Regions from separate parts of the Homo sapiens genome. Here region 1 is linked to region 2. The links come from fine-mapping of genetic effects on gene expression. A gene starts in region 2. The other region holds a variant in brackets. All regions are shown on one strand. Distances are between the middles of the regions.

Region 1 (4,394 bases), 92 kb before region 2:
AAACCTCTCTCAGACAGGCTTGGCCTTGGACGTTACTTGACTCCCACAGCATACCAGATGAAATCTGGTCTCTGGGGACTTTTAAATCATCAATACCCAAGCCTCAGCAAAGACAAATTACATAAGAATGTCTGGGAGCTATGGCTTTTGGGGAGAGTGATTCCTCAAAACACTAACATCAGATATATCTAATTCCAGGCTCTGCCACCGCTCATCTGTGAGTCCTAGAGAAATCACTTCAGTTACTTGATCCGTGGTTTCCCCAAAAGTAAAATGAAGCAAATCATGGTGCAAATTTCATGGGGCTGTTGTAAGGGTTTTATGATATAATAGCTGCAAAAGGCCCCGTACTGTGCCTGGCACACATTAGGGATTCAAACATTGGCCATTGTAATTTTACTGTTATTATTCTTATTGATAAATATTGACTAATCGCTGGCTAAAATTATACCCTTCTTTGAACCCTGGGGAAAGTATATGAACTTGATGGTAGATGGGCACTGCTGGGGGAAGATTAATGGAGGTGTCCTGTGCTGCCTAAATAATAAATCTCTTCTCAAAGTGGACTCCAAGCAGAAGTGTCTTTCCTGTTATCAGCTGGTTGGAAAATATTAATATCACCCACATTCTCAATTGGCCTAAAACACCACCACTAGAGGAAATGCTAACATGGCTGGCTTGGTTTAAGACATAGACTGCAAAGCATCCCGTAACCACAGCCAACATTCTGTTAATCTTATCAGAGGGAAGCAGAATGCTTTAGCAGCTGATGGAGGGCAGGGATTTAAAGAATTCACTTTACTACCTACAGAAACAAAGAACAAGACTTGGAAACGGGGGCTCAGAAGCAAGAAGGGATGATTTCAGTTCTGATATGACCATACAGACCACTCAGGGAAAAACCCACCATGGATGAGTTCCTTCTTGTCACTATGAAATAAACTATAAAGAGCGATTGCTATAAAGCATGGGTGGGGTCATTCTCAATATTTCTTTCTGTCAAGGTAATAAATCCCAAATTCATAAGCCCCTTCAGATAAGGTTAGATGCAGGCCCCTCACTAAGGTGAACCTGACCTTACTTCTACACCCTTCAATTGAGTGACCAAGGATTGATGAGAAATATCAAGTATTTCATAAATATTTATTTTCTAAATATACAACTATAGAAAAGTGAGGTGTAACATATAGCTTGGATGAAGGGTTAAAATGTTAAGTATCTCATTGAGAAAAATGTGTTTGACATTTTTACATTAGAACAACATAATGGAGCAATGCTCACGCTAAACTGGGAACACTAATGTGAACTCAACTTAAATATTTTCCCACTTCTGTCACTAACAGTGGACACAGCAGCAGCAGCAGCAGCAGCAGCAGGAGTAGTACTAATGCCCACCACAACTCTCCTGTACCCCTAAATGGCCAGACTTTGTCTCTAACAGTTTTCTCCACTTAAAGAAACAGGGGCTCTTTGGAAGGGTTGTCCTGAGTAGGGTAAAACAAATGGTTTAAGCCTGGAAGTTTCTTTTGTAACCAGAAAGCAAGGATGCTTTCTAGAATATCACAGGGTGGTTCTGGAAGGACTAAGAAGCTAGATTAAAGAGGTTTCCTCTGGTCAAGCTCTGAGATTTTGAATATCAAATAAGATTGATGGCTATAATCAATTAAAACACATGGAGTCTGTGAAGAGCTGTAAGTTCCTAATGAAGCTATGAAGAGAAAAGTTGATGTAAATGGCAAATGCGATAGGGTTTTATTTCATATTATTTTTAATGGCAGATTTATATATGGGTGATATTATTTCTTCTATTAAATATATGTTGGGTTATTAAGCATCGATAGGCACTTTTCTCTATCCTTGTAAGAAGGAAAGAGTGAATTTTGAATACAACTAATAGTCCTGGAAAAAAATAGAAATTAGTAGTCATGCTTGGTAACATGTAAAGAGGGAACTGATAACATGGAAGGATAATTGGCCAAATGTGCTCGTAAGGACAGCAAACTGCAGGGTTTAAATTCCTCGTCTTGGCCGGGTGCAGTGCCTCACGCCTGTAATCCCAGCAGTTTGGGAGGTTGAGGTGGGTGGATCACTTGATCCTGGGAGTTTGAGACCAGCCTGTGAAATATGGAGAGACCCCATCTCAAATACAAAAAATACAAAAAATTAACCAGGCGTGGTGGCATGAGAATCTCTTGAACCCAGGAGGCAGAGGCTGCAGTGAGCCGAGATCACAACACTGCACTCTAGCCTGGGTGATAGAGCGAGACTTTGTCTCAAAAAAAAAAAAAAAAAATCCCTAGTCTCCTAGGAGATGAAGCGCACTTTAGGAAACACTCTGGTCTCAGAAAAGGATACCAATGTGAAGGCACGGACTTTTATATTCTTAG[G/TCAGG]CCACATTTAAGCTCAAGTGCAATAATGTTGGGAGACACTTTATCAGTTTCAAATAAGAATCAGTAACCCCAGAGCTGGCTGGCCTGAGATTATTTTTCTTTTGGTTCTGAAAGAAATTTGTATTCTTAGGAGAAACTGTATCACTTCATACTCTAATCCTAGGAAACGATCGCATTGACTCTAAGAAAGTAACAGAGAAAATATAAGAATAAGTATAAAAGTACTTTTTAAAACCAATATATACCCATAATCTTCATGCCTTTGTAACCAGTGTAAAGGTAAGTGTGCATATATATTTTTCAATCAGTATGACGTTTTGTGTGCATTTTTGCTGACTTTTTAGGTGTTTGAAACATTTAAAAGGGTCTGACATATTAAACTTATGGTTTTATTTAAAAGTGTTGGAGAGTGTGGTTAAATAATTTTGTAAACAATGGTTTATAAGTTTGGGAATTTTTAATTGTTTCAATTTTTAATAAGTTTTTGATTTATTAATTGTGCAGATAGTGTTCGAATGTCAAGAGGAATATTGTTTAATAGATGTATAAAATTCGGAAGTTAAATGTTAAACAAAGCACAAATATGAATCAGGAACACTAATCAGTGCTTTGTTTAATATTTAACTGATTGCTGAGTCAGTTTTGGTGACAAATATCCTACCAATGCATCACAGCCAAGATTCCAGAGCCCCCATGTGGGCAAAACAACTCGGTATTACCCTTATGGAACTGTAGTAAAAGCAGAAGGGACAGATACATTTTTCCTTGGGGTATGTCATGCTGAGCTTGCATTTTACTATGGCGATTCTTAGAAAAGGAGAAGTCTTCATGTCTTAAAGGAATTGATCAAATGGAGCTTTTCTTGGTCCTTTGCAGAAGGTGATTTAATTCTTCTATTAAATATATGTTGGGTTATTAAGCATCGATAGGCACTTTTCTCTATCCTTGTAAGAAGAGTGAATTTTGAATACATCTAATAGTCTTGGAAAAAAATAGAAATTAGTAGTCATGTTTGGTAACATGTAAAGAGGGAACTGATAACATGGCAGGATAATTGAGGGGGATCTTTGGGACAGGAGTCCTAACCTCTCCCCCAGTTTTCTCTGGTGCTTTCTGCTAGTGCCTGCTAAGACCTGAAGTTTACTTGTTTTCCATCAGAACTCTGAGATTCTTATTTTATTAAACCATATAATCAGGATTTTATAGTCTAGGAAAACATAGACCATTACCTGCTCAGCGCCTCCAGCTAGTGACATCTTAGAAATACAAGCCCCTAGTTCTCTTAGTAACCAAAGGAGTGGAGTCCTTTCTGAAGGCTTGAATTCTATCTGACACTACACATTTGTGGATTTCTCTGCTTTGATGCCTTCTTGACAGATAACGTGCAATCCCCCTTTTCAAAGTCTAAAGAAAACAGGATTGAAACATTTGGGAGCAAATGCCCTGCAAATATGGCCAACCTTTTTTTTTTTTATCTTCCTTTTCATTAACCACATTGAGAGTCATGCATGAAACTTAGATCTATATTGGTGTTTCATTTATAGGAAGTGTTCAGCTGTCTGTCATTTTTATTCACCCTAAGCATCTTGAACATCCTACCGAACTGTAATCTTGAAAGCTAATGCTTCATGAGAAACCTTTTCTTTTTTTCTTTAGAGCATACAAGTGTGTCCTATTTAAAAGGAACCCAAGATGCCAAAATTCTCACATAGAAACTTAGACATCTTGGCAATTGTTCTTGCAATGGAAAACTGGGCTTGGTAGAGAGATGGTTCCCCGGGGAAACTGACCATGGTGGAGTCGCACAGTCTTGCAGTAAGCCTTCGGACACAGGCTGAGTTCAGAGTCCCTAGGGCCATCTGGAGCTGCCAGCCAGAAAGTAACACACCTTTGTGAGGATGGCAGCCCGAGGGATCTACACTCCATCAGGACTGCCATTAACAGCAGGTGTCCTTATGGGACTGGAAGGCCGGGGAAGCTTGTCCTCCAGCCATGAGCGTTGCATAG
Region 2 (4,394 bases):
AGACCCTCTGGTGCTATGGTGCCCATTAAACAGACACTGTAGTCTCCTGTTAATAAGATTCAATTAGGAAAGGGGTGGAGAAGGGCACTCACCGCCTGAGAGTGTGTCAGGGAGGCCTGAGTGGCTGCCTTCATTTCGCGCCTGCTGGAGGCAGGAGGGAGGAAGGTGGTGAGCTCGCTCAGCAGGGAAGGCCAGGCTGCACCCACCTCCCTGGGGGCTGGGGAAACTCAGGGTGACCTCCAGAGCCTCAGGTGGCAGCTTACTGTATGATCGAGGTGATTTTTAATGTCTCAGAGCAGCCCCAGGGTCATCAGAGACAGACCAAGCTGTGCCATCTGGAAGGGCCAGCTTCGAATCTAGTTCTGGCCCCTAGGGTTGCACCAGTGACTTCAAGCCTCCAAGTCTCAGTTTCAGGTTCTTTGATTCTTGGGTCAAGTGAAGGGTGGAGATAAGCTGCCTTCTACCACCACGCCTGATACTTAGGAAAGCCCCAATATCTGGGATTGTTTTTGTTGTTTTGTTGAAAATATATATATATATATATATATTTGTTTTTTTTTTTTGAGACGGGGTCTCGCTCTGTTCAGGCTAGAGTGCAGTGGCACAATCTTGACTCACTGCAACCTCCGCCTCCCAGGTTCAAGCGATTCTCCTGCCTCAGCCTCCCAAGTAGCTGGGACCACAGGCATGCACCACTATGCCCGACTAATTTTTGTATTTTTAGTAGAGATGGGGTTTCGCCATGTTGCCCAGGATGGTCTCAAACTCCTGGGCTTGAGCAATCCATCTACCTTGGCATCCCAAAGTGCTGGGATTATGGGCGTGGGCCACTGTGCCTGCCCTTTGTTGCTGATTTTTAATCCTTACTTCCACTTTACAGATGAAGAAGCAGAGATCTAAAAGCATGTTTTTTGCCTGCAAATGCTGACATTCACTTGTCTTATTGCTAGGAAGAAATCTCTGTACTTTCGCGGTCTCTGGGAGGGCCCCTGGTGAGCAGACTGTCCCTGGACCTGGTTGGAAGCAGTTGTGGAGCTCTCACTACTCCCAGCTTCAGCTCAGTTGGTCCTTAAAAAGTCAGTTCTCTCCCCTTGCCATAAATCCCCACCGTCTCTAACTCCCATCACTACCCTAAAGCAAAGTAGGTTTTAAAAATGCCAGTAACACAAGTGAGAAAACTGAGGTCATTTAACGATAAGTTTGGGAGTAAAACCAAAAACAAAAAAGGAAACTGAGGCCCAGAGAGGTGCCATAACTTGCTCAGGGTCACACAGCACGTAAGTGCCAAAGGCAGGGAGCTGTAGCTGCTCCAGCGTGGATATGCCAGGGACTAGTGACAAGCCCAACCCCTCCAGCCCAACTCCACCCTTCCTCATGCCAACAAAAGGAGAATCATTTCCTATTTCTGGCATCTTTGCCAGCCCACAGAGACAGAGAGAAGAAGAAATATTTCCAAATATACCAGGCTGATCTTTCGTAGTTTCTCAGTCTTGCTGTCTGTTGTTGTTTGAAATCTGTTTCCCACGAGACTCTGGGAAGATGGAGGTGCAGGGCTTGGGTAACAGCTGCCTTCCTCAGGGCTGGGTACCTGCTCTCCGAGTCTGTGTCTCCAGGCTGTGTGCTCAGACTTGACCATGTTTGGGCATGGAGGCTTGCCCCAGATGGGGACCAAAAGCTGCTTCCCTGGAGACGGGCGGGGAGGCCAAACTTCCTGCTGAAGCTCTGTGGCCTCTTTTGGGGTGGGGGCGGGGGTCCAGGCAGAAAGAAACTGTCTGCTGCTCAAGACCCACAGGACGCCGGGAAGACTGTGAGTACCGGGCCTGAAAGCACTTGGGAAGTGATTTCTCTGAAGACCGGGCTGGAGGGAGACAGGGGAAAGCAGCCTGCCACGGGGCAGGGAGGGAGGCAGGCAGGAGGACTCCCTTCCTCTCGGGGCTGTCCTTCTGGATGGAGGGCCCGTGGTCTGGTGGCCAGTGGGGAGGGTGGCACAGTGGCCAGGTTACTCTGGTAGTAAGCGCCCTGGCCCTCTAGGTCCCAGTTCTCAGAGTGGCCAGAAGGCTGCAGCCTGGAGATTAACACCAATGCTGGCACTTGTCACCGGTAGAGAGGTGGGACAAAAATAGATTCATCAAGAGGGGTCCAGACTTCTGCTCCAAACTTTCAGGGTTTCCTTCGTTAGTAGTAATAGCTAATATTTACTGGGGGCTGATTTGGGGCTAGGTGCTATGATACATGTCTGATACTCAATATGGCATTTGATCTTTAGCTGAACTCTCTGAGGCAGGTACCATGGTTCTCGTTTCACAGTCATGTGGTTGCTAAGTGTAAGTGGCAGAGCCAGGATTTGATTCCATGTCTGAGGACCTCAGAATCGCCCTGTCCACACCCCACCAAACTGTTCAACAATGTACTCTATTCCTTGTCCTTCTAAGGAAAAGGATGTCGACCCAGCTATCAGGTCACCCAGGACACTCCAAAGTCCTGCCTTCCTTTGTCCTTCTCCATCTTCTCTGAATCTATCCCAGATCTCAAGTGACCTTTCTAAATGGGAAGATATATCCTGGAACTTCAGAGATATTTAGAAATGCTCAAAACTGGGAAGTTCTTCTTACAGTCTAACTGAAATCCCTCCTATGATAGCTGAAACCCACTTCTTCCTTTTCTTTCTGTCCCTTGGGGGATATTGACAGTTCCCATCCTTCCTCCCGCCAAAGGTTCTCCCTTTGGATGCTGAATACTAACTTCTTGCTGAAGTCATATCTACACTGAACCCCACGCATGGTCTTAGGAGGATTTATCATGACTCTATAAACTCACTCAGTGCAGGCAACAATCTCATCAGACCATTAGAGACGGGTCAGACCTGAATAAGCCAAGTTTCCAGACTTCTCTGTGACAGGGAAGCCTCTCCTTTCCTTTCCTTCTGAGCTCCTAAAACTGGTAAAACCAGGTTCCTGCCTTCACCAGCCTCAGGAGTGCCCAGGGGCCTGAGAGGGCACTAGAAGCCAAATAGCAGAGGAGGCCATGGCCCTGGGCGCTGGGGGGGGCTGATTAGCCAGGAAGGAGCCACAGGAAGCCCCCACAGGTGCGATCCAGTTCCCCCAGGAGAGAAATGGCTTTGTTGTGGGCACTCAGCCCTAGGCTTCCAAGATGGGATTTCCCATTGGCTTCAAATGATTTATGTCTCACAGTATCTGGGGTGGGGCCAAGTGCCAGTGACCCTTGCAGGTCCTGGGGAAGCAGGCTGTTGGGGCTTTTAGCTTACCTCCAGGTGATTCTGTTGCTTTACCTGTGAATACATGGAGAGTCTTGTTCAACTGACGCCAGGTAGAAAAAGGCATGGGCTCTCCCATTCCCACAAGATCACAGAACAGGAGGAAAAGGATTGAATAAAAAGAGTTGAATAAAACATCTCTCTTTGTCGGGGGCAATTTCTGCTTGCTTGTGCTTTTATAATGTCTCCATTAGAATGCAGGAGAAACTCACCTCCTGGTGCCAAATAAAGGAGAAAAAGTTGTCATTGGATGTCACCTCTGCCGATCGATAGGGGAGGTGGACCAGCTCACTGGGAAGGTGTGATGGGTATCCGTGGTGCCTGACCCTGGTCTCTTCCCTTTAGCGGAGATGCCCGGGTATGAGGGCAGCCTGGCTAAGGGGAGGGAGTCAAGAATCTCTGAATATTTGAAACAGTCTAGTAGTTAAGAGACGCCTGAGCAGAAAATAGAGCACTTTGCAGAAAATCTCTTTGGACTAAGGCCTGTCACCCGGACACTGGCTAATTAAACAAACAAAAACCATAATATGTTTATTACTTTAGGGACCTGGCAAGGAGAATAAAGTCCCCCTGATATCTGGCTAAAATTTCCCCTAAATTCCCCTAAAATTTCCCCTAAAATGGAGGATTACATTGATAGCTTCCTGGTATTTTTGGTAGAAATGGACTCTGGTTACTTTAAACAAATAAAAACAACAGCAAATAAATTTACCAGAGGCTCTAGGACAGCTTGCGGAACCATGGGAAATCACGCGGGGACCATGGCTGGGCATCTCTGTGGCTCCAGGCGGCATAGATTGAGGGGCTGTTTCTTGAAGTCTTTGTCAAGACTCACACTCCTGGGGGAGCGATCAGGAGCCTAGCAGGGGAGGGTGGAATCTTTGCTTGCATTGGGGTGGAGTCAATGTCCAGGGGAAAAACAAGGAGTTGCTGCCTAAAGAAAGAGGAGAGAAGGAAAGCAACCACCAGCAGAATGTGCCCATTCTGCTTTGTCCCAGGTGGCTTCAAGCCCTGAAATAAGAAAGCAGTCGCTGAGGCCACCATGATGCCTTCTTTCTTCTTTCTTTGCTTGAAGTAGGGGAATGTTCCTTACAAAAAAAAAAAACACCGGAATATGGTA

Direction of the effects. Positions count from the first base shown, and alleles are read on the strand shown. Sizes are in standard deviations (SD) of each study's normalised expression.
With allele TCAGG in place of G in region 1, the expression in amygdala of the gene that starts at base 1,699 in region 2 is higher (moderate effect, 0.61 SD a copy in GTEx).

The links. PIP is the estimated chance that this variant, and not a neighbour inherited with it, causes the effect.
Region 1: its variant is fine-mapped to the expression of KCNMB1 in amygdala (GTEx, PIP 0.93).

The regions. Positions count from the first base shown.
Region 1 is chr5:170,478,376-170,482,769 of GRCh38, reverse strand. It overlaps a transcript of KCNIP1 not described here. Among named protein-coding and RNA genes, the nearest start is that of KCNIP1, 23 kb to the left of the region's middle. The variant G/TCAGG (reference allele first, on the strand shown) is at 2,388.
Region 2 is chr5:170,386,672-170,391,065 of GRCh38, reverse strand. KCNMB1 (potassium calcium-activated channel subfamily M regulatory beta subunit 1) reads left to right here and starts at 1,699. Exons shown (of 4, transcript NM_004137.4): 1 at 1,699-1,807. KCNIP1-OT1 (KCNIP1 overlapping transcript 1) reads right to left here and starts at 1,573. Exons shown (of 3, transcript NR_109899.1): 1 at 1,463-1,573. It also overlaps a transcript of KCNIP1 not described here. RefSeq lists enhancers at 1-157, 158-658, 2,583-3,083, 3,084-3,584.